Regions from separate parts of the Homo sapiens genome. Here region 2 is linked to region 1. The links come from fine-mapping of genetic effects on gene expression. A gene starts in region 1. The other region holds a variant in brackets. All regions are shown on one strand. Distances are from middle to middle. Region 1 holds the start of MAPK6 (mitogen-activated protein kinase 6). Region 2 overlaps MAPK6 (mitogen-activated protein kinase 6).

Region 1 (2,903 bases):
TGGCACATAGCAAACACTTCATAAACATGTTTGAACAACTACTATCTAAAGACAAAGTTCCTTTCACCCAATTCAAAATTATTTTTTAAACATTAAAATCTGATATTTCTATGAAGAAATTCCTGATTTCAGGGCCAGGCCCTGTTTGGACCCTACATTCTTCTGGTCAGATCATTCTTTCCATCTCAGTTTTCCAGCGTTAAAGAGGGAGGACATGTGCAATTGGAACTGTAAGAGACAGGCTAGAAGAATCAGCCATCAGAAAATTACTCTGAAGCTGCTTGCTCTTCATTGTATGGCGTGTTAATTTTTCCCCTTGACAAATCATCTGTATCCGTTAAAAAAAAAAAAGTCATTACTGAGACTGCATCTTTAGCAATGAACACGAATTCTGCCGTTAATACAAGTAGGCTTCTAATTCCAACTCACCAGTCCCTTTCACTGGACCTTTTCCAATGAACAAGCAAAAGAAAAAATAAAACAGGAAAGGAATCAAGAAGCTCCCGCTGCACAGAGATCCCCCTAACACCTAAACCGGTTGGGTCCTACACTCGCCAAGAAACAAAAGGATGCCAAAACACCTTTACTTTTCGACACAACTCACAAGGCGGACTAAAATGCACAGCAAAGTGACAAGGCCCTTTTTGGTGAACCGACAAAACAAGCTTTCATTTGGGCACTTTTACAGACCACCACTTAAGGTCCCGAAAGAAGCTAAGGAAAGACTGTAGGGCCGAGGGAGGAAATTAGGAATTTCGTCTCCGAGTTTTCAGTACCTCATTCATGGCAAGACTCAAAACTTGGGCGGACTTCAGGGCTCTGAGACGAGCCGGGTGAGCGCTGCGCGCTACGCCACTGGAGACTTTGCCCGGCCGGAGTCAGCTGAGGCCGAGTCACCGGGTGGGATGGGGGAGGAGACGCGGGAGCATTTCGAAAGGCAGCGTGCCAGTAAGGCGAGACTCCACGCCACCTCATGTTCCCCGGGCCGCCGCCCCTCGCTCGCCCGCCCTCCGGTCCGGTCCGGCTGGGTTTCGAACCCGCGGAGCCAGGCGCAGGCGGCGGGACGGCAGCAGGCGTGCGGGGCCAGGGAGCGGGCGCGGCCTGGCAGGGCGACCGGCGAGGGGCGTGCCGGGTGGGAGGGGCGCGCTGGCCGCCTGGCCGGCCCCACGCGGGGACCCCAGCCCGCCGCCCGCCCGCCCGCGCGGGGACGCGCCGGCCAGGCCCGAGCGGGCGGGCAGGCGGGCGAGCAGGGGGCGGGCGGCAGACCGAACAAAAACGCCTTTGTTGAGCGGCAGCCGCCGGAGGGTCACACACAATGGAGGAGGGAGCCGGCTCCGCCGTCGCCGCCGCCGCCGCCGCCGCCGGGCCCGCCGCGGCGCCCTCCCGAGCCGCCCCGCCGGCGCACCCCGCACACGTACACACACACACTCACGGGACTTCTCCGACTCATCGAGAGAGTGCGGGGCTCGCGGACTGCCCCCAGTGTCGGCTCAGGTCTCCGGCTGTGCTGGCGGCAGCGGCGTCTCCGAGGCTCTCGCTTTGCCGCAGTCGCCGCCATGTAACCCCGACCCGCGAGAGAGGGCGAGGAAGAGGGGGCGGGGCTTCGCGGTGCCACGCCCCCTCACGTCACAGGCTCACTCCACGGGTTCTCCCGCCCCCGCCCTGCCCAGCGCACCCGCACGCGCCGGAATTTCCAGCGCCCGTGACTGGGCTGCGCGCGCCGCGGAGGCGGTGGGAAAGGCACGCGGCTCGTCCGGCGTCTCCTGGGGGCTTTGCCTGCGGGCGGGCAGGGAGGAAGACAGCTGGGGCCGTTTGCTCTACTACCTGCCCTGGCATTAAGGGAACAAAGTGACCAAACCCAGTGCCAGCGTTTACTAAGCACCTACTACGTGCAAGGCACTGGGCAATCCGAGAGGAAGAGGCCTCAGTCTCCAGGAAGGGTGGACCTTAAGATGGATTGGCTGGAAGGCGACAGCCCGAGCACAAGACAGACGCGTTAGAGGCCAATACTAAGGTCATTCATTCTGCCAGAGTATGGAGGAAGGCTTTCAGGAGTGGTCGCCAAGGTGGCCTTTCAGCTGGATCCCGGAGGAGCGGATATAACCAGGAGGTGGGGAGGGTGTTTCTGTGAGCAAAGACTGGGAGGCCAGAGTACCTGGCTTGTTGCAGGAACTGGGATAGGACAATTTGAATTTGGGAAGGGATGCACTATGAAACGTAGAAAGGTGGATGGGTGCCTTCTTGGGCCCACTTGGCTAAAAGCAAACTTACATTACTTATCATGGCTTATTGAGTCCAAGGAGCCTTTTCAGTGTTTATGTGAAATTTAAGTATTTATGAAATTAGAGACGCAGGTCAGCATATTTTTTCAATGACTTCATCACCATCTTGCTGAGAACCAGACATAGAATAGCCCTTCTAGTCATTATTATGGGCATCTTCAAGAAAGAGGCAAAGACCACTTCAAAAAGATCACAAAGGGCCAGGCGTGGTGGTTCACGCCTGTAATCCTAGCACTTTGGGAGGCCGAGACGGGCAGATCACCTGAGGCCAGGAGTTCGAGACCAGCATGGCCAACATGGTGAAAGCCCCGTCTCCACTAAAAATACAAAAAGTAGCCGGGTGTGGTGGCTCACACCTGTAATCCCAGCTACTCGGGAGGCTGAGGCAGGAGAATAGCTTGAACCCCGCGGGGGGTTGCAGTGAGCCGAGATCGCGCCAGGACACTCCAGCCTGGGCGAAAGGGCGAAACTCTGTCTCAAAAAAAAAAATCACAGAGTAATGAAGTTAAGTGGTTGGGGTGAGCTTGAATGCTTTATATTTTTTAATATTTAAAACAACGTCAGCTGAGTACCAGGTGTGAAGAAGAGGTAATGAGTGAAAAAAACCAAGAGAAAGGGGAG
Region 2 (2,903 bases), 21 kb before region 1:
CCAGAGTTCGAGACCAGCCTGATCAACGTGGAGAAACCCCATCTCTACTAAAAATACAAAATTAGCTGGGCGTGGTGGCGCATGTCTGTAATCCCAGCTACTCCAGAGGCTGAGGCAGGAGAATGGCTTGAACCCAGGAGGTGGAGGTCGCTGTGAGCCGAGATCGCGCCATTGCACTCTAGCCTGAGCAACAAGAGCAAAATTCCATCTCAAAACAAAAAAACAAAAAAACAAAAAAACAAAGTTTAAAGCTTAGACCCAGGAAAAAACTGGGGCTCCATATTCTTTTTACACGTTCTACACACTTCAACAAGGCAGTAAAAAGGAAGGTAACATAAAGGGACCCTTTCCAGCATCTTTCCAATTTCTCTGCTTCCAAATAAATGTTACCCATTCCTACCAACCATTGCTGATTCTGGGTTGTTTGGGGAGTGATCATTAAGTTTAATTAGCTGGTTCGATATTGTTTTGTTTTTAAAAATTTGGTGAATAAAATGAAGTAAAGAGAATAATTTATAAGAATAAAAGTTGGCTTTTTGCTTTTTCTTTGGCTTTCTTTCAGTGATCTACCATGTCATGGAATTAAAAGCTCTTTATAATGCAGGCTGGATACCAGCTTCCTAAGTTTATAAGGCAGTTCCCTGAAACTGCATTAGCCACAACTGTCTGCTCAAGCACTGCTCTCTTTGCTACATTACCTCCTGCTCCCTGTCAGCTGGTCTACCCCCACACCAAGAGTAATGCTGGTACTGGGAGTCAAGCCTAAGTGTATAAAGTAATGAAATGCAAACAAAAGAAGTAACTTTACTTTGTCCTATCTCGCCAGAATTTTCTTTTTTTCTTATCAAGGAGCAACTTGGCCTACTTATGTCAAAAAGGAAGTCTAGATGTGCAAAGAAAGTTTGAAGTAAGGGCCATAAACATAAAGGTTACTTTTTCTGGTTTTCTCCTCAACCTTCTGCTCTGCTGCTTCTCAGGATAAATGCTGACATGGGTCATCTGGCCTGTTCACATTCACTGACAGCACAGCACTTCCCCCATCCCCTCTCCACAAAGGCTCTTATTTTGCTCTTCTCCATAGTCAAGTGAGTAATTTGAGTTAACAGGAACCTAGCCAGCCTCACATCTCCTCAGCCAAAACCCAGTTGCTTTTGGACAGAAGGGAAAGGTTGAGCTTTTCTTATATTCACCTAGGGCTATCTCCTAACCCTGGCACAGATAAATGTAGCTGTAGCAAATTCACCCTTCCCTGAGATCATGTCTCAAGCTCTCATCAAAGCTACTAAGATTTTCGGGCAGAGAAGGCCAAGTGCTACAGCTTAGCTGCTTGCTCACTGCATT[T/C]TTGACAAAGCCCTTGCTCCTAATGTATGGTGGGCGGCCATAAGAGTTATCAGGGGCCCTTTCAGGATTTGGACATCAAGGAGGCTGGGAGTATAAACTATTAACAACAAATAATCTTAGGAACCTGGGAAAAGACATGGGACCTTAAATCTAAAATGCCAAAGTCTGAAAGGCTTTGGGTAGTATCAGTAACTATGCTTATCTACAGAGACAAACTTTCAAAGTCAGAGAAGACAGTAACAAAGTATCCAATTTAAAGACAAAACAGGCTGGGCGTGGTGGCTCACACTTGTAATCCTAGCACTTTGGGAGTCCAAGGTGGGCAGAACACCTGAGGCCAGGAGTTGGAGACCAGCCTGGCCAACATGGTAAAACCCCTGTCTCTACTAACAATACAAAAACTAGCCAGGTGTCGTGGCTCACACCTGTAATCCCAGCTACTCAGGAGGCTGAGGTTGGAGAATCGCTTGAACCTGGGAGGCGGACGCTGCAGTGAGCTGAGATCACACCACTGCACTCCAGCTTGGGCAACAGAGTGAGACCCTGTCTTCAAAAAAAAAAAAAAAAAAAAAAAGACAAAACACTCACCTACTACTACCAATTTGTGTTCTTAAATTGTTTAAGCCCTTGCCTACATGCATTTTAACATTAGGGGCTTTCATTTGCCTTTGGCCATTTAAAAAGCCATTGTAAAGCACATGCCATTATGTTTATTTTGTTGCTTATCTCTAGTTGTTATTTTCCAGTATGGATGACTTACAGTAAATCTGTAACCAGATTACAACTAGTAAGTCTAGTTACAGCCAGGCGTGGTGGCTCATGCACTTTGGGAGGCCAAGGCGGGTGGATCACCTGCGACCAGCCTGACCAACATGGTCAAACTCCATCTCTACTAAAAATACAAAAATTAGCTTGGCATGGTGGTGCACTGCTGTAATCAGCTACTCAGGAGCTGAGGCAGGAGAATCGCTTGAACCTGGGAGGTGGAGGTTGCAGTGAGCCAAGATCGTGCCACTGCACTTCAGCCTGAGGGACAGAGGGAGACTCCATCTCCTAGTTACAGATTTACTGTAACCCATTCATATTAGAAATTCAAAAATTCATAGACCAGATAAACTAGTAATAACATCCCTATAGACTCTTCCAATTCTAAGTCTATGATTTACAAGTCTTATATTTCTTTAGTTTTATTCCCAAGCCCTGTGGTGGTATGCTCAGAATGGGAGAGATGTTATTCAAATTGCTGTATACTAAACAAATATAATCCCTTCTACAAACTTACGGCTGGAAATTTTTAAATAATTATAATAACGCTTGATCCCATTTCTTATCTTCCTCCCGGCAGGAGGCTTTATTCTAAGATTCCTAACCTAACTAACATTAAAGAAATATTGGAGCAAATATAGGACAGGAGACATGTGCACAGCCTCTTTCTTCAAGCACCTTTGGACACCTGAGGATTCTAACTAGATGAAAATATAAATTTTCAAAGCAGTCAGGATAATAGATGGCCCCCAAAAATCTAAGTCTTGCTCATGCCACAAGTTCAACGTAGCTGTCAG

The links. PIP is the estimated chance that this variant, and not a neighbour inherited with it, causes the effect.
Region 2: its variant is the best candidate, but not a certain one, in a credible set for the expression of MAPK6 in whole blood (TOPMed, PIP 0.83).

What each region holds. Positions count from the first base shown.
Region 1 is chr15:52,017,906-52,020,808 of GRCh38, reverse strand. MAPK6 (mitogen-activated protein kinase 6) reads right to left here and starts at 1,590. Exons shown (of 6, transcript NM_002748.4): 1 at 1,433-1,590. MAPK6-DT (MAPK6 divergent transcript) reads left to right here and starts at 1,714. Exons shown (of 2, transcript NR_156732.1): 1 at 1,714-2,110. RefSeq lists enhancers at 530-579, 1,920-1,989 and silencers at 830-1,339, 1,640-1,749.
Region 2 is chr15:52,038,522-52,041,424 of GRCh38, reverse strand. All of the region lies in intron 1 of MAPK6 (mitogen-activated protein kinase 6), which reads right to left. Among named protein-coding and RNA genes, the nearest start is that of MAPK6, 21 kb to the right of the region's middle. The variant T/C (reference allele first, on the strand shown) is at 1,342.